7 linked regions of the Homo sapiens genome follow. The protein of the gene in region 5 purifies or fractionates together with the protein of the main gene of each other region. This does not show direct contact. Each region holds a gene or a part of one and is shown on either strand. Other genes may lie near its edges. The genes, in order: ITGB4, KRT2, MAGEC1, IPO5, LRRC31, PARP4 and UGGT1.

The links.
Region 1: the proteins of LRRC31 (region 5) and ITGB4 purify together in Homo sapiens (affinity purification with mass spectrometry, with the first as the bait; one large-scale study listed by BioGRID). This does not show direct contact.
Region 2: the proteins of LRRC31 (region 5) and KRT2 purify together in Homo sapiens (affinity purification with mass spectrometry, with the first as the bait; one large-scale study listed by BioGRID). This does not show direct contact.
Region 3: the proteins of LRRC31 (region 5) and MAGEC1 purify together in Homo sapiens (affinity purification with mass spectrometry, with the first as the bait; one large-scale study listed by BioGRID). This does not show direct contact.
Region 4: the proteins of LRRC31 (region 5) and IPO5 purify together in Homo sapiens (affinity purification with mass spectrometry, with the first as the bait; one large-scale study listed by BioGRID). This does not show direct contact.
Region 6: the proteins of LRRC31 (region 5) and PARP4 purify together in Homo sapiens (affinity purification with mass spectrometry, with the first as the bait; one large-scale study listed by BioGRID). This does not show direct contact.
Region 7: the proteins of LRRC31 (region 5) and UGGT1 purify together in Homo sapiens (affinity purification with mass spectrometry, with the first as the bait; one large-scale study listed by BioGRID). This does not show direct contact.

Annotation. Positions count from the first base shown.
Region 1 is NC_000017.11:75,754,673-75,758,318, reverse strand, and holds the end of ITGB4 (integrin beta-4 isoform 1 precursor), read right to left. Parts: coding exon 3,504-3,646; intron 3,265-3,503; coding exon of another isoform or gene 3,106-3,264; intron 2,619-3,105; coding exon 2,469-2,618; intron 1,891-2,468; coding exon 1,702-1,890; intron 1,616-1,701; coding exon 1,460-1,615; intron 1,377-1,459; coding exon 1,212-1,376; intron 1,120-1,211; coding exon 1,009-1,119; coding exon of another isoform or gene 998-1,008; exon of another isoform or gene 904-997; coding exon 764-903; 3' UTR 501-763; downstream 1-500. Other genes in the region: GALK1 (galactokinase), read left to right, coding at 1-109, 192-263. UniProt on the Homo sapiens protein: Integrin alpha-6/beta-4 is a receptor for laminin. Plays a critical structural role in the hemidesmosome of epithelial cells. Is required for the regulation of keratinocyte polarity and motility.
Region 2 is NC_000012.12:52,646,282-52,649,574, forward strand, and holds part of KRT2 (keratin, type II cytoskeletal 2 epidermal), read right to left. Parts: intron 2,822-3,293; coding exon 2,726-2,821; intron 2,057-2,725; coding exon 1,892-2,056; intron 1,575-1,891; coding exon 1,449-1,574; intron 680-1,448; coding exon 459-679; intron 1-458.
Region 3 is NC_000023.11:141,901,998-141,906,894, reverse strand, and holds the start of MAGEC1 (melanoma-associated antigen C1), read right to left. Parts: upstream 3,002-4,897; 5' UTR 2,917-3,001; intron 2,179-2,916; 5' UTR 2,081-2,178; intron 1,926-2,080; 5' UTR 1,823-1,925; coding exon 1,819-1,822; intron 1,487-1,818; coding exon 1-1,486.
Region 4 is NC_000013.11:98,008,785-98,013,000, reverse strand, and holds part of IPO5 (importin-5), read right to left. Parts: intron 3,121-4,216; coding exon 2,988-3,120; intron 2,899-2,987; coding exon 2,777-2,898; intron 756-2,776; coding exon 659-755; intron 1-658. UniProt on the Homo sapiens protein: Functions in nuclear protein import as nuclear transport receptor. Serves as receptor for nuclear localization signals (NLS) in cargo substrates.
Region 5 is NC_000003.12:169,841,852-169,846,067, forward strand, and holds part of LRRC31 (leucine-rich repeat-containing protein 31), read right to left. Parts: intron 1-4,216.
Region 6 is NC_000013.11:24,502,431-24,506,646, forward strand, and holds part of PARP4 (protein mono-ADP-ribosyltransferase PARP4), read right to left. Parts: intron 1,348-4,216; 5' UTR 1,347-1,347; coding exon 1,215-1,346; intron 857-1,214; exon of another isoform or gene 725-856; intron 1-724. UniProt on the Homo sapiens protein: Mono-ADP-ribosyltransferase that mediates mono-ADP-ribosylation of target proteins.
Region 7 is NC_000002.12:128,174,325-128,178,540, forward strand, and holds part of UGGT1 (UDP-glucose:glycoprotein glucosyltransferase 1 precursor), read left to right. Parts: intron 1-448; coding exon 449-534; intron 535-2,489; coding exon 2,490-2,574; intron 2,575-3,507; coding exon 3,508-3,596; intron 3,597-4,143; coding exon 4,144-4,216. UniProt on the Homo sapiens protein: Recognizes glycoproteins with minor folding defects. Reglucosylates single N-glycans near the misfolded part of the protein, thus providing quality control for protein folding in the endoplasmic reticulum.

The sequences.
Region 1 (3,646 bases), on a different chromosome or scaffold from region 5:
TGCTGTGCCTGGGGTTTATGGCAGCCGCATGACGGGCGGTGGCTTCGGTGGCTGCACGGTGACACTGCTGGAGGCCTCCGCTGCTCCCCACGCCATGCGGCACATCCAGGTGGGCGGGCACCAGGGCCTGGGCGGGCAGGAGCGGCAGCTTCCCGGGGCCCTGCCACTCACCCCCAGCCCGCCTCTTACAGGAGCACTACGGCGGGACTGCCACCTTCTACCTCTCTCAAGCAGCCGATGGAGCCAAGGTGCTGTGCTTGTGAGGCACCCCCAGGACAGCACACGGTGAGGGTGCGGGGCCTGCAGGCCAGTCCCACGGCTCTGTGCCCGGTGCCATCTTCCATATCCGGGTGCTCAATAAACTTGTGCCTCCAATGTGGTACCTGCCTCCTCTAGAGGTGGGTGTATGCTTGGGTGTCAGAGAATGGGGGATGTCAGAACCGCTCCCCTACCCTAGGGGAGCACCTCTCAGGCCCCAGAAGAATGGGCAAGGCAGGGCCTAGCAGTAGCAAAACCATTTATTAAGTGCAGAACAAAGGCTGGGTCCTTGTGCTGCTCCCAGCTCTTTGGTTACAAATAGGTTTGGGCCCACAGAGGACGGACCTTGCCCCCTTCATGCCTCCCAGGAGACACCTAGCCCCTGCTCTGTGCATGCGGGTGGGCTGGGCCCCCAGGGGTGCAAGGATGGAGTAGCTGAGGAGGCTCCGGGAGAGGAGTCGGGAGGACGCCTAGTGGGACGTGGCGGGGGTGGGGCAGGGTGCGGTCAAGTTTGGAAGAACTGTTGGTCCATGTGGGTGCTAAGGGTTCCGCTGGTGGTCAGTGTCCGGCTCACAAACTCCTGGGTCACATGCCGGGTGAGGGAGCCGCCTGCCTCCAGGTGCTGGGCCCCCAGGGTCAGCCCATCTGTGGAGGAGGAGGCATTAGATGACCTGGCTTGGGGTCTGCCCTTCTCCCTCTGCTAGCTCCCTGTCCCAGGAGAGCCGGGATCCCCTAGCCCTCAGTGCTCACCCACTAGGAAGGGCTCGGTGGCGCTGGTGTGGGTGGTGGTGATGCTGCTGTACTCGCTTTGCAGCGGGTGCTGGAAGAGCCCGGCACGGCTGCCCAGCTGCGGGAAGGGTCCTGGGGTGGGCAGATAGGCCAGTCAGAGGGTGGTGCCAGAAGGAGGCACGGCCCGAGGAGGGGTGGGGGTGAAGGAAAGGACAGGTGCCTACCTCCATCCTGGGACTCTATGGTGATGATGCCCTCGCGCTCTGGCCCGAAGCCCTCAGTGGTCCTGGCCTGCACCTTGAACTTGTAGGGCACGTTCTCGCTGAGGCCCGGCACGGTCAGCCGGCTCTCGGGGCTGTCTCCATCCACCCGGAATGCGGTGGCTGGCCCTGAGCAGGGAAGATGCCTTCAGCGTCTGCGGCCCCCTCTTTACCCCTCCCCTGGCCACTCCTGCCCCCGGGGTGGGCAGCACCTCCTCCTTGGGCCATCTCACAGGTCACCAGGTAGCCGACGATATCCCCATTGGGCCTCCGTGGCCGCTCCCAGCTCAGCTGCAGCGAGTCTGGGCTCAGGGCAGTGAACACCAGCGGGCCTGGGGCACTGGGAGTGCTCAAAGTGAAGGCGGAGCCTGGGGGCAGTAGAGGAAGAGCATCAGCCTGTGGGTGGGTGGTGGGCATGATGGGGGCAGCTCTGGGGCTGGGGGAGGCAACTCACCTGGCAGGGGACACAGTGGGCTCTGCGGGTGCACCTGGGATTCAATGGTGATGACACCCTCACGCTCTCGGCCCCAGCCTTCCTGGCTCTGGGCCCGCACGCGGAACACGTAGGAGTGGTTGGGCAGGAGGTCTTCCACCACCACCGAGGTCTGGGCAGGGTTGGGGATGTTGAGCCGATGCAGCTCACCTGGGGGGATCAGGTGGGGGCACACAGTAGTGCAGTGTTACTCCCACCCCTGGCCTGATCCTCCTCGTCCCTAAGCTGCCATCGAGACCTAGTTATCACCCACCCAGGACTAGCTGTGGTTTGGGTACAGGTTGGGTACAGTATGGTATGGCTGGTTGTTCAGATTGTGTACTATACAAGAGTGGAGCCTGTAATCCCACTCATGTTTAGGCAACATCCTGCATCCTGGTCATGCTGCTTTGAATGTGCCTGCCCAGGGAAGTGCCACTTCCTTGTTCCCCCAAAGGCATCTCAGGCCAGCAGAGGCCCTAGGATCCCAGCCCAAAGGGGCCTTGTTAGGCAAAACCTAGCAGAGAATGACCAGGAGAGAGGCCCAGGGAGGTGGGTGAGACCTCAGAAGAGGGGAGGCAAAGAAGTGGGGTGGAGAATGGGGTGGGAGACCCTCTCAGGCTGGATGGGGGCTTTAGCGCTCAAGGGACTTGGGTGGGTTCCTGACACAGCTGAGGTACCCTATGTGTCACACTGGGGCCAGGCCTTGCAGGGCTGCACCCCGCAGCCTGGCAGCCACCATGCCTCACCGCCGTTCAGCAGCTGGTACTCCACACTGTAGCCCTGCAGCGGCCGCTCGCACCGCGGCTCCTGCCAGCTCACTCTGAGAGATGTGGGCCCCAGGGCAGAGAACACCAGGCGGGTGGGCGTGTCGGGCACACCAGCAGTCAGGCGAGAGTCTGGGGACAGGAGGCCGCAGTCAGCCAGAGATGCAGGGGCTAGGGTCTCAGTGGGAGTCACAGTGCTGCCCCCTGACCTCCCTCCCTCAGCTGGCATGTCTACACTGACCGCTGGCTGGACAACTCACTCACCCTGCAACACCCTGTCCAGGCTGCCCAGCACCTACCGCACATCCTCCAGCAGGGTGCAGGCCCTGCTTGTGCCAAAAGAGAGTGAGCCCCGTGAGTCTGCCAGCCCCACCCCCTCAACTGCTCAGCTGGCCTGGCCCCTCTCCTGCCCCAGCCCCAGCCCCGCCCCCTGGGAGGGCAGAGGCAGAGTTAGGCATCAGCACTGATGGTAGGGCAGGTGGTTAGCGCCTGTGGGCAGGCGGGGGTCCTGTGGATGGAATGGAGGGGAAGCAGTGGGCACAGCTGGCGGCTGCTATGGTGGCTGGATGACAGATGGAGCAGGACAGCTGTGGAGACAGGATGGCCACCCCTGTACTACCTGGGCCCCAGGAGGGCGCTGCTGGCCTCCCAGCCAGGATTATAGAGTCTCGTGGGCCCCTGGAAGGGGGGAACCCTTTCATCTGAGCCCGACTCCGGGACCCCAGGGCCCAGGACAGCGGAAGCCTGCTCCTCCCGTGTTCCCAGATGGGAGGGAGGCCTAGGGCAGGACAAAACAAGAGTGAGAGGAGCAGGGAGTGTGCATGCATGTGTGTACGTGTGCGCATGCATGTCTGTGTACATGTGTGCATGCGTGTGCACGTGTGTGCGTGCATGTGTGCATGCGTGTGTGTATGTTGGAGAATGGGCGGTGGGGACAGCAGACAGAAGCCCGAGGCTCCAGGAGCTGGAAGAGAGGAAGGGTTAGTGGGAGAGGCAGGGTTGGCTGAGGTCACTCACCGTGGGAGGAGACGGAGGTGAGGGTGGAGTAGTCCCTGGGCAGTGTGGTCGAGTGTGAGTGTTCTGAGCGGGTCAGTGAGTTGTAGTCCCGTGTGAGGGTGGAGGATGTGCTTAGCACGCGGTGGGGCACGTGTGGGCTCAGG
Region 2 (3,293 bases), on a different chromosome or scaffold from region 5:
CAGAAACCTGCAAAGAACTGGGGCTGGCACCTGCTCCGGTCAGCACGTCCCCACCAGTCAGCACATTCCGAGACATCATCTCCCCCATTCTGGGTCACCCGGTGGAGGGCACAGAAGCCACTCACCCTATGGACCTAGAGACCAAAGTTTCAGACTGTCTAGGACTAACCTGTTTTCCCATGATTTTGTTTTCTCTTTCAGAAAAGACCAGGATGTTTAACTTACTGCTTAGTTTAATTTAATGTGCCTTATGCATCATTTCATGTTGATAAATGTGTAACTCTCCAATCATGCTTTATGTCCTGAGTTTCTGCTTGGGGAACACAGAGAATGTCAGTTCTCAGTTGTCAGGAGGGCCTGCCCCATTCTCTGCTTTCCCTGTCTTTGCCTCCAGCCCTGGCTCTGGGAGAGATGAGAGGAAGGGCCAGGGTCCCCTTCTCCCTTCCCAGTGCCCTCACCTGCACTCCTCGCCCTCCAGCAGTTTGCGGTAGGTGGCGATCTCCACATCTAGGGCCAGCTTCACGTTCATCAGCTCCTGGTAGTCACGCAGCAGCCGCGCCAAGTCCTCCTTGGCCTGCTGCAGGGCCTCCTCCAGGTCATTCAACTTGTTCCTGGCATCCTTGAGGGCATGCTCCCCACGCTGCTCGGCATCTGCGATGGCATCTTGCACATTCTTACACTATGACAGAAGGACAGAGAATGGATTCTGCCTGACGGAGGCGGACAGAGAGCAGAGGTGTTCGAAGTGCAGGAAGCCAGAACCACTGGCCCTGGGAGTGTTAGGTCCCCTCTGGAGTTTAGTCGCAAACAACTGTGCTAAGACTTGCCGCTGTCTCTGGCACATCTTCTTCCCATGTCACCGTTGATGACACCCTTTGGCTTTCCCCATAGTGCCCTTTGATCCTCACATCACAGGGCCTGAATCATGATCCCATTTTACAGATGGAAATGAAAACATTTGAAATGGTCTGCTTGGCAAAGCTTCTGCTGCTGATGGAATCCACTCTCTGCCTCTACCTTTTCTATTCCAAAGCTAACGTCCAGCCCCAGGCCAGCTGCCCTCAATACTCACTGCCCCTCTATGAAACCAGTCGGCTGGTGCTCAGGGCCTGTGCTGAGCACAAACGGGAAGCTCCATCGGCAATCTGCAGCAAATCAATCAAACTAACGTTTGCTCTATTTGTTATGACTCCCTTTTCCTCATATAAACAAGTGAGCACAATTCTTTCCCTTCGATAATCCTTACTTTGGAATGTCTATTAGAGCACTCTAAGAATTGTTATAATAAGCCATAAATTATGTTAAGCTGGGGAATTTGGGATCGATACATGCTAGAGTGCAATATCTCAGTGTCTCTCATCTCTCACATGCACACTCACACACAACCACACTCTCACGCACACCCAGAGACAACCTCCCGCCCCTCGCTGGACAGGGCTGGGCCTCACCTGCTTCTTCACATGTGCGATCTCCCCCTGCAGCCTCTGGATCACGCGGTTCAGCTCGCTGATCTCTATCTTGATCTCTTTCAGGCTGTCTCCATGTCTCCCGACAGTCACCTGGAGCTCCTCATACTGATATGGGGAGAAGAGGACAGTTTGCAAGGAAGTTCCAGCCTGGCTCACATTCCAGACTGACTGGAGTGAAGGAGAGCTGGTTACTGGTCCAGGGAGGGTCAACCCAGCTAAATGTCATGGCTGCATTCATGAGAGGTAGGGACTGTCTCACATGCCCAAAAGGACTTGGTGCCATTCTCAACATCCTTTCTTGGGAATGGTGCCCAACTACCATTAAACAAAAAACCAATAACCTTACTGTACACTTTCCAGCTGGGGGTGCAACCCAGCTCATGGCAGGGAGCTGTGGCTCTTCCTACATTCCCTCTACTTGCCTTGCTGTGGTACAGGGCCTCCGCTTCTTCCTTGCTCCTCTGGGCGATCTCCTCATACTGGGCCTTGACCTCGGCGATGATGCTATCCAAGTCCAGGTTGCGGCTGTTGTCCATGGAGAGGATGACGTTGGTGTCAGTGACACTCTGATGTATCTGGGATATCTCCTACAACACACAGGAAGGTCTGGTCATGACATCCTGCCATAGCTACAGGCAGACAGGAGGCCTCTGTCTCCCAGCATAAGGGAAACGCAGACCCTCAGACTAAGCATACACTAGGTGGGATGAAAATCATGTAACCGTCTACTCCTGGGCCTCTCCCAAGGTTGTCCTGAGAATTGTAGTGAGAGGCACCTGTATTTCTGAGCCTCCTAGTTAACATTCAGCACTTAAGCCAGTTATGGTAAGTGCCCCCAGACAGAAGCTTGTCCATGGCAAATACCTTAAATGGACTTCCTGTTTCAGAAATCATCTGTGCACCCTTGGGTTGGGGAGGGGGATAGGAGACAAATGCATTTTGACCTCTGAAGTACAGTAGGCACAGGAATGGGCACAGGGCTTGTCTCTTCCCCAGGGGAAATGGACATCTGGGGAATGGAGGGAGGGGAAGCTGTCCTGGTGTTTCCTGAACCTTATTCCCATAACATCGGAGGAGAAAATTCCTCACCCACAAGACCTATGCTATGAAAGCCCCCCCAGTGGCCTGGAATGATGGCAGATTGAAGTCAGCTGGTCCATAAACCCCACTTCTGCCACTTTTTCACCAAGCAGAAAGGACTTTCATTTGGTGAGAAGGGTGGGAAGTAAGGGACTGTCCCGGAGCAGCCTCCTTACCGCATCATAGAGAACTTTCAGAAACTCAATTTCCTGGTTCAGCAGGTCCACCTTGGACTGCAACTCCACCTTTATCATGTAGGCATTGTCCACGTCCTGCAAGAAAGGTTGAGGCCTCTGGTGTATGGTTCCCTGTACAGGCCTCTTCCTCTCTCTGCCACTCCCCTCTACTCAGTCCCTGCTGGCTCCTCTCTAAAATCCCAGGCTCCCCAACCTGATCCCTGTCCCCATGGGACTTCTTTTGTCGTGCAGTTTACCATACACCTCTGCCAGGGACTTCATGCCTACGTCCATGGCTCACAGCCCTCAGGACCATCAGAGCCTCGAGATGACCAAGCTTTGCCAACCAGCCCCTCTCTCCTGCTTGAGACACTGTGTGTTTCTACAACAGGATACGATGTTCTTTGTGGGTTTCCACAGTCCTCAGCTCTCTCATCCCGTCTGTCCATCTCACCTCTCCGAAATTTCCCCAGAATATACACCAAAGGCCCTGCAGGACCCAGCAGGAGAACCCTTGCTTTTGGCCTACAACCTCAAACCTTTGTCAGCACAACCAACAGCAACTTTA
Region 3 (4,897 bases), on a different chromosome or scaffold from region 5:
CTCTGGAAAAGACTCAATAAAGTGGAGGAGGAGGAGGAGGAGCTCACAGGAATCTGGAGAGGAGACTGGGGAAAACCCTCAAAAGTACTGTGAGTTCTCTCAGGGGAACTCTGGAAAAGACTCAATAAAGTGTAGGAGAAAGAGGAGCTCACAGGAATCTGGAGAGGAGACTGGGGAAAACCCTCAAAAGCACTTTGAGCACTCTCAGGAGAACTCTGTAAAATACTCAATAAAGTAGAGGAGAAGGAGGAGGTCATAGGAATCTGGAGAGGAGACTGGGGAAAACCCTCAAAAGTACTGTGAGTTCTCTCAGGGGAACTCTGGAAAAGACTCAGTAAAGTGGAGGAGAAGGAGGGGCTCCCAGGAATCTGGAGAGGAGACTGGGGAAAACCCTCAAAAGTACTTTGAGCACTCTCAGGAGAACTCTGGAAAATACTCAATAAAGTAGAGGAGAAGGAGGAGGTCATAGGAATCTGGAGAAGAGACTGGGGAAAACCCTCAAAAGTACTGTGAGTTCTCTCAGGGGAACTCTGGAAAAGACTCAATAAAGTGGAGGAGGAGGAGGAGCTCACAGGAATCTGGAGAGGAGACTGGGGAAAACCCTCAAAAGTACTCTGAGTTCTCTCAGGGGAACTCTGGAAAAGACTCACTAAAGTGGAGGAGAAGGAGGGGCTCACAGGAATCTGGAGAGAAGACTGGGCAAAACCCTCAAAAGTACTCTGAGTTCTCTCAGAGAAACTCTGGAAAAGACTCAGTAAAGTGGAGGAGGAGGAGGGGCTCACAGGAATCTGGAGAGGAGACTGGGCAAAACCCTCAAAAGTACTCTGAGTTCTCTCAGGGGAACTCTGGAAAATACTCAATAAAGTGGAGGAGAAGGAGCGGCTCACAGGAATCTGGAGTGGAGACTGGGGAAAACCCTCAAAAGGACTTTGAGTACTCTCAGGGGAACTCTGGAAAATACTCACTAAAGTGGAGGAGGAGGCGGCGCTCACAGGAATCTGGAGAACAGACTGGGGAAAACCCTCAAAAGGACTTTGAGTACTCTCAGGGGAACTCTGGAAAATACTCAATAAAGCAGAGGAGAAGAAGGAACTCGCAGGATTCTGCAGAGGAGACTGGACATCCTCACCCTCAGGAGGGCTCTGAGAAATCTCTAGAGGAGACAGGGAGTCCTTCCCCTCAGGAGAACTCTGAGAATTCTGGAGAGGAGACTGGGTGTCGTCGCCCTCAGGAGAACTCTGGGGAATCTGGAGAGGAGACTGGGAGTCCTTCCCCTCAGGAGGTCTCTGGAGAGGATCCGAGGAGTCCTCCCCCTCAGAACGACTCTGAGGACTCTGGAGAGGATACAGGGTGTCGTCGCTCTCAGGAGAACTCTGGGGAATCTGGAGAGGAGACTGGGAGTCCTCCCCCTCAGGACAACTCTGAGGACTCTCAGAGGAACTCTGGAGAAGACTCGGCATCCCAGCAGTAGGCATATCCTTGTCCCCTGGAGAACGCAGAAGCAGAGAGGAGGATGAGGATGAGAAAGAAAAACAGGAGGAGGACGAGGGGAATAAAAAGTGGAAAGAGGAAGAGAAAATGGAGGAAGCTTCCTCCTCTTCCTCATCTGGGGGATCCTCTGCATCTACCAACTCCAGTATGAAAATTGCCTTCTGGAAGCCTTGCTCAAAGCTGGGGCGTGGAAGGTTTAGAAAGAGAGGCATGATGAATATTGTTCAGGAGCAGCAGGTAAACGTGTGAACACGAATAGGTATGATGGGATCCCACAGGACTGAGGGAGAGAGGGACAGTGCCAGTGGCCTCAGCTGAGAAACTCACCCATGATGGCTCTGACAAAGGCCGGCTTACAGCTCTTCTTCTCTTAAGGTGGTGCTCTAGGGCCTCACAGGTCGCCTGTCTTCCTAGGGGGTTTGTCTTCTGGGAACCTGTAGAAGGACGCGAGAAAGCACCTCGGGGCACAGCTGGCAGGCAGAGCCTGAGGCACCAGGAATGACAGTGGGTGGCTACAGGCCGGGTGCTGCCAGGTCTGCCCTGTTTCTGGGGGTAGGGCCCTTGGTACACAGTCAGGTCGTGCACTCACCTTGACTCCTGGCACTGCCTGGGCCTCCTCTGCTGTGGTGCTTTTAGGATGTATGTGTCCCTCACACCCAGGTCTTCAACTCCTGCTTTCTGGAGCACCTGCAAGAGGAAGGGAGGGAGCCCCTCCAGCTAAGACGGCAGCTGGGGCTGGCCAGACTCCCAGAGTCCCACAATTCTGAGGTTCGTGACCCCCTCAGAATTCAATTAGCATTGTCACATTTTCTCAGACAGGGCCAGGCCCCCACCACTCTGCTGGCCTGAGGAAAAACCTCAGGAAAACTCCACATCACTGAGAGCAGTGGGAGGTAGTGAGGTGGCAGCCACCTCCCAGCACTCTACCACGGGGGCGGTCCCTGTGGCCTCACGTCTGTTCTGACGCACATGTGACCCCTCAGTCCTCACTCTTGTTCCCAGCAGGGCCTGGGAATCTTCCCTCTGCCAACTGGAGGCAGCTCCCCATGCTGACTTGCCATGGGACCCCCAGAACAAGGCCTCCTCCTCCCCCTCCCCTACACCCCTCACCCAGCAGTGAGAGGGTGGCCGCTCAGCCTCAGCCACCTGGGGAGCTCTATGGGGGCTGATTTGAGGAGCAGGGTGGGAATCTCTGGGAATCTGTCCTCTGAGGTGGGGGTTCCCCCGGTCCTCCTCAATGCCTTCCTATTTATTCTCTAGAGGGCCGGCATTTCCTCCCTTCTTCTGCCGTGAGGACACGTCCCTCAGCCCTCGGCTACCATCTTCGTTTCCGCCACCTACAAGTGCCACCGCAGGGATAGGGCAGGCCAGGGCTGCTTCTCTCTGTGGTGGGGTTGTCCCTCACTTCTCCCTCGGGGCCCTCACCTTGAAGACTGGATAGGTCTATAAGTCTCCTCCCTCCGCTGACCTGAGACGATCCTCGTCACAAAATGCCTCAGGTCCTTCAGACTCCCAAGATGGCCGCCGGGAAAGCACATCCGGCAAAGCACATCCGGGAACTCTGTCAGGGTTGATCAGGGCTGACAGCCCGGATAGCGTGGGGCGGGGCCTCCTCTCAGAGGAGGAAGGCGCCCCCCCCCCGCCGCCCGCTTGTCAGCCTCCTTTCCATCCCTTCCTTCCCACCTCCAGGATGTGCTCCAAACCTTTCTGCTCACTCCCTAAGCCCTGCTGACCTCTTCCCTCCCACCTCCCCAGTCCTTGACACTCACACCCCACCTTTTTCCAGGGCTGACAGCAGGGAGTGGCAGGGTGCAGCCTGTGCCTCCCCCGTGTTCGGAGGTCACTGTCCTTCGACAGAGTTCTCTTCTTGTTGAGTGGCCAGCCCTGGGGCTACTCCCTCTGTTTAACTGAAGCTGCCCTCCTCAGAGAAAATCTCCCCTCTGGCTGACTCCCAAAATGGAAGTCAGAAATTTGTAAATCTGGGGACCCTGATGGGCTCCTCCATGGCTGGCAGCAGGCACAGGGACAGGACAGGCAGCACTACCAGTCATGGGTGTTCCCTTCCTGCCTTCCTGAGAGGCTGTTCCTGGACTCCTGACATTGTCTGGGCTCCCTGCCTCTATGCATCTGAGTCTTTCACCTCCGAATAAGCCCCTCCCATCCTTGAGACCTGCAAGGTGCAAGAGAGGTAGAATCACATCCATCCACAGTGGGGTATGGCCTCCCAGACTCCAGGTAGGGCTCCACTGCCCTCCGTCTGAAATGGCATGGGAGGGACCCTCAGTCTTCCTCAACCTATTATTCCTGATACGGCCTCCACTCCCTCCCTCTTCTCTCCAGGGACTGTTTTTCAGATCAAGGTTCCCATTTCCATGAACCCCCCAAGAGGGACTGGAGCACGCTAGCGTCTCTCCCTAATGGCCCTGCCCAAGGCCTCCTAGCAGTGAAAACGGGCAGGTTTTTGGGGATCCTCCTGTGTCCGTGGTGGGGTAGCTCACCAGTCCATCCTCTGTATCAGCCTGGGGATGCCTAGAAGGCCCCCCTCCTGATCTTCCGCTCTCATGATCTGAAGTGAGACTCACCTAAGCACAGCCTTCTCCTCTTTCTACACGCTAAGACGTCAGGGGACAGCACTGTGGGTCAACATGCCCCTGGGCCTCCCAGGGATGACAACAGGTGGGGAGCTGGTTTCTGTGGATCCTCTTCTTTGTGGGCAGGAGGTTTCTGCAGTTTTCCCTCAGAGGCCTCATCTGACTACTGGCTGGTCCTGGGTCTTCCTATCCTTCCCAAGATGACAGTATGACACAGGGAAAAAAGTAATGTGACTTTACCCTGAAGAAAACTGACAAACACTAGGTCACCATGGTGATCAAAGTAACATCATCAGTGACAAATTGTGTTGGTATTATGTGCCGTCGGTATGATATGATAAGAATGGCACTTCACTTCTCTGTTCATCTTCCGAGAAAACGTAACCTACATCAAATCATAAAAAATAATCACTTAATTCCCAATCAAAGGCTATTTTACAAAATACCTGACCATACACCTCCAAACTGTCAATGTTTTCAAAATCAAGAGAAGTCTCAGTGAACTGGCACAGCCAAAGGGCATTTAAAGAGACATGATGAACAAGTGTAATGGCGTATCCTCAGGGTATCTTGGGACAGAAAATAGACTTTCGTGACAAGGAAATAAATGTGAATAAAGTATGTTTATTAATAAACAAAGGATGTTTGCATAGGAATAGTACCAGCTCTTCTTTAATAACCACATTTTAACTTCCTTGCCTCTGAGATAATCCCGTCTCCAAATAATGCCACATGTTAATTTCAACATAAGACTTCAGTGGGGGTGCAATTGAATCTATAATAGTGGAAAGGGAAGTGGCAGACCTATATGTATA
Region 4 (4,216 bases), on a different chromosome or scaffold from region 5:
CTGCTACAGAAAGCTGACCATCTATCAGTGGTTCTCTAATCTATTAAGACAGGTCTTGCCAGGCACAGTGCTCAGGTGTGTAATCCCATAACTTTGTGGGGCCAAGGCAGGAGGACTGCTTGAGCCCAGGAGTTTGAGACCAGCCTGGGCAACATAGGCAGACCTTATCTCTTAAAAAAAAAAAAAAAAAAAAAAAAAATCAAATCTAGCTGGGCTTGGTGTTGTGCACCTGGGTCCCAGCTACTTGGGAAGTTGTGGTTTCAGTGCGTCCTGATCACGCCACTGCACTCCAGCCTAGGTGACAGAGTGAGACACCATCTCTTAAAATAAAAGTCTTATTTTCTTAACGTTTACCAAAAGATATTTGGGGAAAGTAGCAACTATATATAATTGTAATCATTTGCTAATTATCCTTAAATCCTTAAGTGGGCCACAGAAAGCTGACAAACATAGGATAGGTCACGTTTTCTTTTTCATGTTTTGGCACAAGTGGAAACAAAGGCACATGCAGAGAACCGAGTTTATCACCTAAGAGTACACTTAGTGCAAATACAAACAATCATGGTGAAGTCTACTTCAGTCAACACTGTCTAATACTCCAAGAAACTACAAGTTTACTAAATCTAGACATGTTTTGTATTCAGAAGTTGTAGGATATCATCGTGGAAATAAAATTTCAGTAAAGGGACCATCAGTTTGACAACCTGTTCGGTGTACTCCACAAAGCCTTCCTTTAACTCCTTAGCATAGCAAACCTGTAACCAAAGTATTGGGAGGAAATAAAGATTCATGTTAGTCTTCAAGCATTAATATTAACAAACAGCAAAATCATAAGGACCACAGGAGGTTGTATTTTGACTAGAACTACATTTAAAGTTGCATGTAGAACTGTCAAATTAGTCTTCCAACTAAAAAGAGTCTTAAAAGAAGGGTCATGAAATGATTGTAGTATTGGTGAGTGACAAAAAGAAAAAAAAAAAGGAAATTATTGTCGTATATATTGTCCCTTCAAAGGCTGGAATCATTCGTATTCCATTCAGCAAGTTTCAGCAATACATCAAACAAAATGTATCACTTAATTGAGGAAAAATCATTCTAAAAGATACAAAAAACCCTGAAACCATCAGTTAATTGAAGCATTTACTTTGTAAATCTGTAGAAAACGCTTCTGTTATTTTGTATTTTTAAAAAATCATGGCTGGGCACGGTGGCTCATGCTTGTAATCCCAGCACTTTGGGAGGCTGAGGCTGGTAGATCACGAGGTCAGGAGTTCGAGACCAGCCTGGCCAACACAGTGAAACCCCGTCTCTACTAAAAATACAAAAATTAGCCAGGCATGGTGGCGGGCACCTGTAATGCCAGGTACTTGGGAGGCTGAGGCAGGAGAATCGCTTGAACCCAGGAGGTGGAGGTGGCAGTGAGCCGGGATGGCACCACTATACTCCAGCCTGGCTGACAGAGTTAGACGGATCACGAGGTCAGGAGTTCAAGACCAGCCTGGCCAACATGGTGAAAACCCGTCTCTACTAAAGATACAAAAAATTAGCCAGGCATGGTGGCGTGCACCTGTAATCCTAGCTACTCGGGAGGTTAAGGCAGGAGAATCACTTGAACCCAGGAGACGGAGGCTGCAGTGAGCTGAGATCAAGCCACTGTACTCCAGCCTGAGCGACAGAGTAAGACTCTGTTTCAAAAAGCAAAACAAACAAACAAACAAACAAAAAAAACCCCAAAAACCCAATTGTTTCATTCTCTTCTACTACATCTAAAGATTAATTCTGTTTAAAGATGTTATTATTTGTATTTGCTTTCCAGTTGAGAGAAAAAACCCACAAAAATCCAAAGTGTTTATAATTTATAGATACTAAGTATTGAAGATGACAATAAGAAATACATTAATTTCTAAAATCTAACTTTAAAAGTAAGTATTGGCCAGGTGCAGTGGCTCATGCCTGTAATCCCAGGTCATGGCAGGCGGATCACCTGAGGTCAGGAGTTGGAAACCAGCCTGGCCAAAATGGTGAAACCTCATCTCTACTAAAAATACAAAAAGTAGCCAGCTGTGGTGGCAGGCGCCTGTAATCCCAGCTACTCGGGAGGCTGAGGCAGGAGAATCAACTGAACGCCAGAGGTGGAGGTTGCAGTGAGTCGAGATCGTGCCACTGCACTCCAGCCTGGGTGAAAAAGAGAGACTCCACCTCAAAAAAAAAAAAAAAAAAGGATTATCCTTCACTTTAAAACGCATGCTCATAAAGAAAACAAAAAGAAAACTAGGAACTAAACATGCATATGCACACCACAAACACCATAAGGGATAATAACCGAACATTTTGATTTTCCTGCCATATCTGTTTTTTTACACAATTGAAATCATACAAGTTTTGTTTCACATTAAATAGCATGAACACACTTCTGTTCATTTGTTTAAAAAACATTCCATGGCCACCTACTATAGACTAAGAACAAAACCAACAAAAATCCTTCCCTCATGTAGCTTATAAACTTTTTGTAATGGCTGTATATTACTCCAAGGCACAGTAATTCATCTTCCCACTAACAGGAATTTGGGCTATTTGTTGTTTTTTGCTATTTAAAACAGCACTGATAATGAAAGGTTTATCCATACGATTTCTTTAAAATGGAAAGAAAACTTTACTTTTTAAGGAACATATTACTGGCTCTCCAAAGTAATTTCTTTAGCAGCTATTAAAAGCACTCATATGAAATGTATATAAGATGTAAAATAAAAGTTTAGTAAAAACAGTGCTCTCTTACCAACATCTGGCAAGCAGTTGATTTTTCTTCTAGTCCTGCAGTTTTAATACCAAAGCTTTGCTGATCTCCAAGGTTCACAAATTCCCAACCATCATCATCACTCATATTCTCCATGTCTTGGGCTATTAACGGAGAAGAAAACAAATGCATATGAAAAATAATAACAAAGAGAGAACTATTATAACCGATAGCTCCTTCTAAAGACACCTACTATCTAAAAGGGCTACTTCGGGCTTAATTGAAGCCGTCTTCATTAAAGGCCCCATAACCACTGGAAGGTATTGCTGAAATTCTTTTCCAAGGATTTTGCACATTCTGGCCCATGCTGAGATCATGTAAGAGATCTGGGGAAAAATTTTAAAATTAAAATAGATTAAAAAACAATGGGTAAACGTGATAAAGAAAGCCATTTCCTTATTTCATAGAAACAATGTTTTATTGATATGTTCACAGTACTTTAAGCAGTAAGAGCATTTCTAAAGGTTATGTACTTAAAAGGTTCAGAATCAATAATGAAATCCCTGTGAACTCACTACACTGGGATATGGACAGCAGGTGAGGCAAAACACAAAGACCAGAACCTTGGGTATTTCTTTCTACTTTCAGTAAGTGATAATGGTTTTCTTTCTTAGCATCTGAATCATCTAAATGAAACTAATCACCTAAACAAAACCAAACACTTCATCAACTCCCAGTTACAAATTTTTTGAAGACAGAAATGTATTTTATCTGACTCTGTATCCCTATTGCCTGCCACTCCATTCATTAAACATTTATTAAAACCCAAGAAACAAAACATCCTTTTCTCTTAGCTGTTATAATTTTCTCATAAGTGGCTGAGTATATTTAAAACACCTCTTCTCCTATTACTGTGTTTACACAGACTTTATCATCTGCAAATTACCTAGAGAATCTGGTTCCATTCACCACCCCTGCAACCTAGAAAGTGATTCTTATCCCCTGATATCTGTCATCCACCTACCTATTTATCTATTGAGCATGCATGGACACATGCCCCACCTCTTAATGATTTTATATGTAAAAGTCCACCCGCTCTTCAGATAGGTACTGGGTGTTTCTCACATGCCAGGCATTAAACTATATGCTGGCTGATACAAAGGTGAGCAACACGCCTCGTCCTTACCACCCCTCCCTACAGCTTACAGTCCCCTCAGTCTCCCTACTGTCAGCAGTCTGCTAAGTATCCCTCCTGCCTGTTATCTCTGTACATACAAAACATACATGTATATTTGCATATCATTTTGCAAAGAAAGCAAACAACAACAAAACATGCTTTCTTTGCAAAATGGTATGTTTTCCTATTTAAACTATTACAGTGTGGCAATGTAAAGTCAAAATTTAATTCAACAATTATTTATTGAGTGCCTTGTTATATGTTAGGCATTGGGAATACCATCAAGATATGACAAACATTTATGA
Region 5 (4,216 bases):
CTGGCCAAGATAGTGAAACCCCGTCTCTACTAAAAATACAAAAATGAGCTGGGCATGGTGGCGGGCACCTGTAATCCCAGCTACTCGGGAGGCTGAGGTAGGAGAATTGCTTGAACCCAGGAGGTGGAGGTTGCAGTGAACCAAGATCGTGCCACTGCACTCTAGCCTGGGTGACACAGCAAGACTCCCTCTCAGAAAAAAATAAAATAAAATACATAAATAAATAAATTTATTTTTTGTTTGGATTTTATAATGTGAGCACCCTATTTTATTATATTTTATTATTTTAGATTTATTACATTTTAAAAAATCTAGGTAGGGGAAATGTAGGCCATGGGTATACTCTTTATAGTTTACTGTATGAAAAAATAAATGCCATTAATTATTTTTAAAATGTATATAAGCTAGTGATTAACAAATTTTTAATGTTTCTATTAGAAAAAATATAAAAGTGACAATTGCTAAAACCACATATAGTAATACTTGTTTTTTGTTGCTGTTGTTGTTTTTGTTTTTTTGAGATGGAGTCTGCTCTCTTGCCCAGGCTGGAGTGCAATGGCGCAATCTCAGCTCACTGCAACCTCCATCTCCCGGGTTCAAGTGATCCTCCTGCCTCAGCCTCTCGAGTAGCTGGGATTACAGGCACCTGCCACCATGCCCAGCTAATTTGTGTACTTTTAGTAGAGACAGGGTTTCACCATGTTGGCCAGGCTGGTCTCGAACTCCTGACCTCAGGTGATCCACCTGCCTTGTCCTCTCAAAGTGCTGGGATTACAGGCGTGAGCCACCATGCCTGGCCTGTAATACTTGTTATTGAGTAAAAATTCAAAGAAGGAAAATATACCCTGATAAAATGTAAAAGTATAAATTTGACCTGAGAAAAAAACTGTCAGTAAAAATTAAGAAAAAATATACAATGGCTGAAGACATGGTGAATAAAATTTGATGCAGACAAAAATAAAAAAGACCGAAATGAAGAAGCAAATTTTAATTATAAACATTAAATAAAATAACTTAAATATATTTAATGGTGTCTAATTCAGAGAAATAAATAAATAAAAATCAAAAGCTTATTTTTTAGAAGACACAACATCAATAAACCCCTTGCAGTAGTCAGAATTCTAAATAGCCACCTTAAGATTTCCATTGTATCCCCAGGACTGAATGTGGTAGATTTTGCTCCCAGAATTAGCTTAGGCTATATGGCACACCTGACTTTAAGAAAGGGAGATTATCCATATGGAGTCAACCTAATCACATGAGCCCTTTAAAAGCAGAGAGAATTTCCTCCTACTGCTGGCAGAAGAGGAAGGAAGTCACAGAAGTCAGAGAGATTTAAAGTGTGAGAGGCACGGACAATCCACTCCTGTCTTGAAAATGAGGGGCCATGTATCAAGGAATGTGGCTGGCCTCTAGTAGCTGACAGCAGCCCCCAGCTGAGAGCTAGCAAGAAAACGGGACCCTCAGTCCTAAAGCTGCAAGGTCCTCGACTCTGTCAACAAGAATGAGCTTGAAAGTGGATTTATTCCTAGAGCCTTCAGATGAGAACTCAGCCAGGCTGACACCTTGATTTTAGTGTTGTAATACCCTACACAGAGAACCGACACAAGCTGTGTCAGACTTCTTACCTACAGAACTGTGAGCCGGGTGAGGGATGAGAAATTACTTAATGATGCATTATTCATTTGGGTGATGGTTACATCAGCACCCCAGACTTCACCACTACAATATACGCATGGAACAAAACTGCACTGGTGCCCCTCACATTTATATAAGCTTTTAAAAAGAACTGTGAACAAATACATGGATATTGTTTTAATCCACAAATTAACATGTTACACAGCAACAGAAAACTAATACCTTTGGTCAGACTAGCCAAGAATAAAGAGATAGAAACACAAATTATCAATATCAGGAATGAGACAGGTGGTATCACTATGGGCAGTAAAAGGATAACAAGGAAACAACTTTATTTCCATAAATTCAACAACCTAGATGAAATGGGCCAATTTCTTAAAAGACACTATCAGAACTTGCTTAAGAAGAAATAGACAACTGGAATAGTCCTAGCTCTATTTTTTTTCTATCTCTATTTTTTAAATTGAATTCGTAATTTAAAATATCCCACAAAGAAAATTCCAAGTTTAGATGGCTTCAGTGGTGAATTCTGTGAAACAGTTGAGCAATAAATAATACCAATTTTACACAATCTTTCTGGAAAATAAAAGAGGAAGGAACACTTTCCAACTCATTGTATGAGGCTACCTATACCCTCATAACAAAGCCAGACAAAGACATTATAAGAAAACCAGTAGACTATTATCCCCTTGTGAACATAGGCACAAATATCCTCAACAGAATATTAGCAAATAACATCCAACGCTATATAAACAAGATAATACATAATGACCATGACCAGGCTGATTTAACATTAAAAAATCAGCTAATATTATTAATTATTATCATTCATTATTATTATGAATATTAATGAACTATAGTTTTTTTAAATGCTCATCTCAATAGATGCAGAAAAATATAATTTGACAAAATTCGTTATAAGAACTCTTAGCAAATTAGGATTCCTTAACCTGATAAAGGGTAGCTACAAAAAAACCTATAGCTAACATCATACTTAATGGTGAAAAATGGAATGCTTTTCCCCTTAGCTTAGGGGACTAAGACTGGAAGCAAGGCAAGAATGCTCTCATCTCATTCAACATCTATTGGAAATCTAGCCAGCTAAATAACCAAGAAAAAGAAAGAAAAGATACACAGAGATAAAGAAATAAATCTGTCTCTAGGCCGGGCACAGTGGCTCACGCCTGTAATCCCAGCACTTTGGGAGGCTGAGGCAGGCAGATCACGAGGTCAGGAGATCGAGACTATCCTGACCAACATGGTGAAACCCCGTCTGTATTAAAAACACAAAAACTAGCTGGGAGTGGTGGCACATGCCTGTAGTCCCAGCTACTCAGCAGGCTGAGGCAGGAGAATCGCTTGAACCCAGGAGTCGGAAGTTGTGGTGAGCCGAGATCATGCCACTGCACTCCAGCCTGGTGACAGAATGAGACTCCATCTCAAAAAAAAAAAAAAAAAACAAAACAAAACCTGTCTCTAATCATAGATGATATGATTATCTATATAGAAAATCCTACAGGATCTACCAAAAATATCCTACAGCTAACAGATGAGTTTAGCAAGTTTGCAGTAAAATGTCAATATACAAAAATCAATTATATATCCACGTAACATTGGGAATCTAAAATTAAACAGTATCTTTTATAAGAGAACAAAAATTAAACACTCAGATATAAATTTAACAAAATATAAAAACTAGAAAACACCAGTGAAAGAAATCAAAGAGTACTTAAATACAGAGATAGACTGTGTTCATGGATTGGAATACTCAATATTGTTAAGATGTCATTTCTCCCTGAATTGATCTATAAATTCAATGTAATCCCAATAAAATTTCCAGATGGATTTTTAAAATAGATATTGACAATCTGATGCTAGCTTTAAATGGAAATGCTAAGTAACTAGAATAACCAAAACAATTTTGAAAAAGAAACAAAGAATACTTATACTACTTCATTTCAAGACTTACTATAAAGTTTCAGCAATCAAGACAGCGTGATATTGGTAAAATAAGAGACACAGAGATCAATAGAACAGAACTGAGAGACCAGAAGTAGGCCATCACAAATATGGCCAATTGATTTTTCACAAAAATATAAAGGCAAATCAATGGAGAATGGATAGTCTTTTCAGTTAATGGCACTCAAATAATTGGACAGTAATATGCAAAAATATTAACCTCTACCCATACCTCATACCTTATATAAAAATTAACTCAAAATAGGTAATAGGTCAAAATATAAAATGCAAATACAAAGCTTTAAGACAAAAATATGGAAAAAATCTTTGAGAACTTAGATTTGCAAAACGCTCTAAGATGCAACACAAAAAAACTCTATTCATCAAATTAACAAATTGATAAATCTTTATCAAAACTGAAAGCTTTGATCTGCAAAAAAACACTATCAAGAGAATGAAAAAGCCAGTGGGACAGACCCAGAGAAAATAATAGCAAATTATATTTCTGATAAAGGACTTACTTGTATTCAGAAAAATCTAAAAAACTCTCCAAACTCATCAATAAGAAAACAAACAATCCAATTTTTTAAATCAGGCAAAAGATTTAGAACAGACATTT
Region 6 (4,216 bases), on a different chromosome or scaffold from region 5:
CCCAGTTCCTCTCTGCAGAGGCACCTGCTGTCACTTGCTCCTCGCGAATCCTGCTAGAGCTACACTATGCGTAGATACATGGCAGCGTGCTCCTCAGCCTCTTCCGTGCTGGCTTTTCCACTGAAATTATCTTGGTGATTGTTCCTCAACATTACATATACAGCTGCCTCATTATCTACAGTAGCTGGGATGCACATTTCACATGTTTATGTACATTGACTTCCACAAAGTTGCACTCACAGTATGTGACTTTCTAAAAAGGAGAGACCATGTTGGCAGTTCACACAGAAGACAAACTGAGAAGGGAGAGCAGGCACGAATTACTCATCTGTCCAGAGATGGTGAGACAGCTCAGTGTGGGAAGCTGTATAAGGGAAGTATATACAATTCTACCTGAATTGGAAGTAAACAGGGACATTGCATTTCTGGTATTCAGCTGGAGTTGAACACGCTTCACAGAACAGATGAGGCTCACAATGGCCAAGCCCCAGGGCTGAGGTCCAGGGAGGGGCAGGGTGAGTCAGCTCATCAATTCGTCAACAGAGGGAACAGCAGAGGACAGGGGCAGGCCAGCCTGGCACCTAGAGCCTTTGGATTTCTATTTTTACAGTGAGGTGGTTTAAAAAAGAGGAGGTTAAACTGAATTATTTCTAAGATTTCATCCAGCTGTAAAATCCTATTATTCTGAACTGCCAGGCTTACAAGTTCAAGAGGCAGAAGGTAAATTCCTGCAGCCTTTAAATGAACAAAACAAACAGCACAAGCTACACTGCGAAGATGAGTCTGCACTGCATGTATTTCTTTCTACACCCAGGAACCTGGCTTACCAGTATATCACCCCAGCGTTGACATACTGGTGAGTGACGACAGTGCGCTTTTTGCAAATCCTGTGCACTATGACTTTTCTCCTTCAAGAATAGATATGGCTGGTCTGAAATTCTATTTTCATATTTGGCTGTGCTCTAGTAATATCCTGCTTCACAGGACATGTAGGATTGTCCTGCAGTTCAGGGAACAGGGAGGGGACAGGGCTGGGCCACCTCTGCCTCTAGGAGCCCAGCCTCCCAATGGGCCATGTCAGTCTCTCCTGATGAACTTCGAGTAGCTCACTCACTCTCTCCTGCTGCTAATCTCTGCTTCCTCTTCTAACCATGACCCTGTTCCCTGAATGCGCAATGTTTTATCACACTGTAGTTTATGACACTTGGAAATACCTGAGGATTTAACGAAAAGGAAAACTTTCCGCCATTTTCCTTAATGTCAGTTTGTAGCTTTTTCTTCTGCTGCTGAGGTAAGTACTTCACTTTCAAACAGAAGATACAATTTGCAAAGATTCCCATCACCATCCTGTAGGAAAAAAAGTTTTTAAGGACCCTCTCTTAAGTCAATATGACAGTGAATTTAGAATTATTATACAAGCAAACTGTGGGAAAATTGGGCATTATCTTAAGAAAGATATTGCAATCATGTTATCAATAGAACATTGCAAAAATTGAATAATATCCTAGCTTGCAATATGTGTGTTGGTTTAAGAATCGTTTCTAGCTTTTATGGTTGATATTACACCACCAAAAATCCCTTTGTACAGGCTCATGATATACATCTTAATAAAAACATGACAGATTTAAGTTACAGATCAAGTGTGTGACTCCAGAACATGGAACCATTTATTTCTAAATTAGAAATTAACATTATTTGATAGTGAAACCATGGGTTTCTTTAATATATAATTCTATGCATTCAAAAAGACTCTTTATGTGGACTTCTATTAGGCCATTCTGGGGAAAAACTGAACAGCTGATAATAAAAATATACAACTATGTTTAAATGGAATATGTATGTGTGTGTATACACATATATATTCTGCATTTAGGTTCTTTTTTTTTTTTTTTTTTTTTTTGGAGACGGAATCTCACTCTGTCACCCAAGCTGGAGTGCAGTGGTGCGATCTCAGCTCACTGCAACCTCCGCCTCCCTGGTTCAAGCGATTCCCCTGCCTCAGCCTCCCGAGTAGCTGGGACTACATGCGCGCACCACCACACGTGGCTACTTTTTATATTTTTAGTAGAGACAAAGGTTTCACCATGTTGACCAGGCTGGGCTCAAACCCAGCCTCCCAAAGTGCTGTGATTACAGGTGTGAGCCACCACACCCAGCCTGGGTTAATTTAATTAATTTACTGTACAACACATTCTCAATTTTGCATCGAAATGTGTATTTAACAATAAATTAATACATGGTGAAAAATTGTGTTTAATTTCCATTTTGTAAAATTTTTTTTTTGAGACAATCTTGCTCTGTCACCCACGCTGGAGTGCACTATTGCAATTTTGGCTTACTGCAACCTCCACCTCCTGGATTCAATTGATTCTCCTGCCTCGGTCTCCCAAGTAGCTGAGATTACAGGCGCCCACCATGACACCTGGCTAACTTTTGTATTTTTAGTAGAGTCGGGGGTTTTACCATGTTGGCCAGGCTGGTCTTGAACTCCTGACCTCAAGTGATCTGCCCACCTTGGCCTCCCAAAATTGTGGGATTACAGGCATGAGCCACCGCACCTGGCACACCCCCGCTTTTTTTTTTTTTTTTTTGAGTCAGGGTCTCACTCTGTCACCCAGGCTGGAGTGCAGTAGCAGATCTCAGCTCACTGTAATCTCTGCCCACTGCAATCTCTGCCTTCCGGGAAGAGAAGGTGAGGGTTAAAGAAAGACACACACACACACACAGAGGAGAAAGAAAGAGAGAGGAGACAGAGCTAGAGAGCGCGAGCTTGACAGCAAATGCGGCTTTATGTGCAGCACAAAACCTACAGAAGTAGGGGACCAGCCTAATGCCACAGCCCACTGCTAAGTCTTACAGGCTAAGGGTACTTATAGGTATGGGCGGGAGGGGTCTGGGCAGCATGGCTTGTTGCCCTGCAAGATATCGATAAGATGTTCCCATGATTTGTATTGATTTGTACAATAAGGGTTCTGGCCCTTATTCAGGTGGATGTCATCATGGTGTTCCTTGGACGTTTGCCCAAGAAGTCATGAGAGGGAAGTTTCTTCAGATAAGCCTCTGTTGGCCTTGCGGTCAAGTGGTTAGGAAGGATGTTTCTCACCGCCTAAACCCCCCAGAAATGTTTCACTTTGCCCAAAGTCTGCAAAATAGCGGGCAGCTTACAAAATGTTGCAGTTTGTGCTAACGCTGGGTTCAAGCAATTCTCCTGCCTCAGCCTCCCGAGTAGCTGGGATTACAGGCCCGCGCCACCACGCCCGGCTAATATTTTTCATTTTTAGTAAAGACAGGGTTTCGCTATGTTGCCCAGACTGGTATTTGTCAATTTTTAAAAACAAGGAGTCACGTCTAACAGGCTCCCCGCAAAGTAAGCTGCCATTTGGCGACAGCAGTTTCCAAGTCCTGTATTAGTTTGAGGATCGCGGTTCCGGGTCCTGTGTTAGCTTGGGCAGGCAGGTCAGGTTCTCTGCCGCGGCCCACGCGTCTTGGGACTAAGCTGAGTTGCTGAAAGCCCACCGCCCTGCACCGCGATTGGGCTCCGCCATTTCCCCTTTGCCTGCCCTTTCACCTCCCACTCCTACAGGCCAGAGGCCCCACCCTACCTAGTGCTGTGTCTGGAATTTGTGGGTTCTTGGTCTCACTGACTTCAAAAACGAAGCTGCCTGGACCCTCGTGGTGAGTGCTACAGTTCTTAAAGGCGGCGCGTCCGAAGTTTGTTCCTTCCTTGGTCTCACTGACATCAAGTATGAAGCCGCAGACCCTCGCAGTGAGCGTTACAGTTCTTTAAGGCGGCGCATCCAGAGTTTGTCCGGAGTTGTTTACTCCTACCGGTGGGTTCGTGGTGTCGCTGGCTTCAGGAGTGAAGCTGCAGACCTCCGCGATTTAAAGGCAGTGCGGACCCAAACAGTGAGCAGCAACAAAATTTACTGCAAGGAGTGAAAAACAAAGCTTCCACAGCGTGGAAGAGGACCCCAGCAGGTTGCCACTGCTAGCTCGGGCAGCCTGCTTTTATTCCCTTATGTGGCCCCACCCACATCCTGCTGATTGGTTCATTTTATAGAGCGCTGATTGGACTGCTTTGACAGGGTGCTGATTGGTGTTTACAATCCCTGAGCTAGACACAAGTTCTCCAGGTCCCCACTAGATTAGCTAGACACAGAGCACTGATTGGTGCATTTACAAACCTTGAGCTAGACACAGGGTGTTGATTGGTGTG
Region 7 (4,216 bases), on a different chromosome or scaffold from region 5:
TTTTGAGACTCCTGCCCAGGCTGGAGTGCAGTGGTGTGATCTCAGCTCACTGCAACCTCCGCCTCCCAGGTTCAAGCAATTCTCCTGCCCCAGCCTCCTGAGTAGCTGGGATTACGGGCACCCACCACCATGCCCGGCTAATTTTTGTCCTTTTTTAGTAGAGATGGGGTTTCACCATGTTAGCCAGGCTGGTCTCGAACTCCTCACCTCAGTTGATCCACCTGCCGTGGTCTCCCGAAGTGCTGGGATTACAGGCGTGAGCCACCGCACCTGGTCTGTGCTAGAGTTTTTAATGTGTAGTTTTGGTTTTTTAAGAGTTGCATTGATTTGTTTACTGTGTTATTCACATTATAGTTGATTGATATTTCAGAAATAGAAGTAACTGTTCCTCAGAAATAACATTTTGGTGTTTTGAAGAGAGCTAACTGGACTTTTCTTCTTGTCCTAGGGCTACTTTCAGCTGAAAGCCAACCCAGGAGCTTGGATCCTCAGACTTAGGAAGGGACGCTCTGAAGATATTTATAGAATTTACAGGTAGGAGTAAGTGATGCAGTTACATTATCCCAGAACTTTTAGAAATGAGCATTAGCTCTAATTGAATACTACCCTGGCAGTTAGCCAGGCAACATGAATTTAATTTGCAGTTGTATGTGATGAAACAGTGGTTTTTCCAGGAAATTAAATATGGAAGAATTGTTAGAATAGAATTAGATAATAAGAGGTATAGATGCTAATGAGTATAGTCAGGCTTTATTCTTTAATTATTCCTTTGTGCTAACAATATCCCAGAATCAAATCATTCTATCAGTGTGATGCGGCTCATAGATAGGCAGATGAGAAACTTGAAGAAAGGAGAAAAGAAAGAAAGAACAGCCACACTTTTCTGCCCAGAGAGTGTATGTGTTGACCCTGAGTGATTTGCAAATGCACAGTACATGGAAGCTTTGGTCTTGAAGCTGTGCTGTTAGTGCTGGTATTCCTTGGTCTGTGGTGGCATAGTAAGAACATTCCCTCTATAGCCAGCTTTTACCTTAAGGTTTACTGCACATATTTATTAGTTTAAAAATAATTATGTTGCCTTTAAAAAAGTTTGATATAAATTCTGCTTAACACAATTTAAATTAGTTTTAAACTGTGTGAAGAGGCTTCCCGTCAGGTTGTGTAGGGGATGATTTCCATTAGGGCACATTTGAAGCACTCTGTAGTATGTCCTTGCCTTAATTAGCTCCGTAGCGACACACATGAAACAGTGGATTAGTGCCTGGTTCTTACCCAGGAAATAGAAGAATTCTGTATTATAATAACACCATTGTAAACAGTAGAAGGTTTTTTCCCACATAACATTTTCCTCAGATAAGGTTTTACAAAATTTGGGATGCACTTCCGAACTCCTTCCCTTTTGGATGCCCTGGCCCTTGCCAGCCCTCCCCTTCCCAGGAGCATGGTGCCCCCTCTTCCTAGCTGTTCAGGGCCCCACCCCCATTAGAATCTTCCTTTGCCTGAGAACCCTACTCTCTGCTAGATGACAGCAAATGCAGTGAATTCATGTTGTAATTATGACTTTCTGCACCTTGAAATTTGGTGACTGGAAATTTTAGGCATTGCTGTTGATTAGTAGGGAAACATACATTTAATTTTTCTTCCTCTGCTCCTGTCTGCCTGCAAATAGAATTTGTTACAGTTTTTCTGGTAGCGTATAGACACCAGGTTGAGTACAGGGCCTATTGTTGACTGATTGTTGCCTCCGGCAGAAAGAGCGAGCAGATTTCCTTTACAACACTATTCCAGTTAAAGAGTAGTGGCCGGGAGTGATGGGTGATGGCTCACGCCTGTAATCCCAACACTTTGGGAGGCCGAGGAGGGTGGATCACTTAAGGTCAGGAGTTTGAGACCAGCCTAGCCACTATGGTGAAACCCTGTCTCTACTAAAATACAAAAATTAGCCAGGCGTGGTGGTGGGTGCCTGTAAACTCAGCTACCTGAAGGCTGAAGCAGGAGAATCACTTGAACCCCGGAGGTGGAGGTTGCATTGAGCCGAGATTGCTCTACTGCACTCCAGGGCAACAGAGCAAAACTCTGTCTCAAAAAAAAAAAAAAAAAAAAAAAAGAGCGGAGGCAGTGTGGTTCCAATAATGGTTCAGGGGGCCTGTTCCCTGCATTCCTTTATCGAAGGCTCTGTGCTTGGCTCAGAGCTTGTGAACACAGGCGGTTGTTTAGTACTCACCATGTGGTTACCACACATGGGTGCCTCTCACTACGTGATGGGTAATTTGCAAGAGGACTCACAAAGGAGGTTTGGGCATGCACCTTATATAAAGAGAGGTTTCAACACGTGCTTCTGTGCAGCTCGAAGGAGCTTAAGGAGCAAGAAGATAGCTGGATCTGGAAAACTCCTTTATGAGAAGGATGATGGACTCAGATGCTCTGAGAGCATTTGCTGCCTTTTGAGAATTGTGCCTTGTAATATTGATCTTTCTTTTCTCGCAAAGCCACGATGGCACTGATTCTCCCCCTGATGCTGATGAGGTGGTTATCGTCCTCAACAACTTCAAAAGCAAAATTATTAAAGTGAAGGTGAGTTTGGTAAAAGTAGTGGCATTCTGTTATTGGACAGCTGTCATTTAAAAATATGTATCTTGGAACCAGCCCAAGAGTCTCTTTGGAATTTGCTATGGCAATTATAGGGATACTGCTTTAAGGCAAAATGTCTTTGTAACTGTGAGTTTGTGGCTTCCCTCAACTGAAAGATTGTACCTTTTGGGTAATCTCGGTGTGCAGAACATGTCCCATCTTATATAAAATATTCTCATAGATGCTATGTTGTTTATATAGCCACAATTCATAGTGTTGTTGATGATTCTTTTCTCAATATTGGGGGAACTGGCAATGGAAATTTTCAACAATAATAAAATGATAGTCCTATTTAATTTCTTTTGACTTGTACTTTCCGTTCTCTGAATGTTGAAGCTCTTAGTGCCTTAAATTCAAGTACAGTATATTCTTGAAGAAAGAATCATTACACACAGTGAAACCTAAAATAGGCCATCCATTGTTGAGAAGAAAAATGGTCACTGTACTGCCAAGAAGAAACCCCTGTTTGTGCTAGTGAATCCTGAAAACTGGTCATAACATGAAATACCTCCCTCCCAACAGCTAGAGCCCCCAGCAGCCACACTCTTCCCTGGAACTAGCTGTTGACTCATTGAATCGTGCTTCTGGTTTCACTGCACAGTTGAGTTTGCGGCTCTTTGCCTATGTTGCAAGCTGAAAATGGGGTTCATCTAATTAAAAGAGGTTGCTGTCTCCTCACATAAGGTTATGATGTGAATGTCCTGGCGAAGATACTTCTATTGAATCCTTCTAGACTCTGGGTGGGGTTGTGCCTGTTTGTGAGAGAATTGATTGATAATTCCCTATTGATGACAGGCTCACAGTGTATATCCAGTGAGAGGCAGTTTTATGCCTGTGAGACATACTGGGAGTAAGGTTTATCACATTTGATTGCAGGTTCAGAAGAAGGCAGATATGGTGAACGAAGACTTGCTGAGTGATGGAACGAGTGAGAATGAATCTGGATTTTGGGATTCCTTCAAATGGTAAGTTGACATTGTAAGAGTTATGTTTTTAAGGAAAAACTGAGATATAAGCACCATCCATCCCTCCTTTTTGCATCTTGTGATTCTGTCTGGGCCTTTCACATTCTACTTTGTGCAGCTACATCTCACACTTATATTTGGCATAGATGAGTATTTTCCACTCGATTGATCCAAAAGAGGTTCATGTCTCCTAGTGGGGAAGTTACTTCTGCTCCATACTTTGTGACTCTCATTGCCTGTACCTGCTCTTTGGAAATTTGACTGCTCCCTGCTCAGTTTACTTCCCGTTGTGTAAGTTGCATTCTGGTGCAGCCTGTGTTCAGTCTCTTCCTAAAACAACACTGTCGGAGAGTGAACATTCTTTTTGTAGGTTGGTTTTGTCAGTCTTGTGGTCTCTCCAGGGTGTGAGGGAAGCTTCATAACCACTCCTGCTGCAGCTCACCCGCTAGGGAAGGATGGGAAGCGCAGTCTCTTTCCTCTTACTTTCAAAGGCCGTGTGTCTGTATGAGTGTTTCAAGTGGTCTTTTTTTTACCCTTATTGTTATAGGGGCTTTACAGGACAGAAGACTGAGGAAGTGAAGCAAGATAAAGATGACATAATTAATATTTTCTCCGTTGCA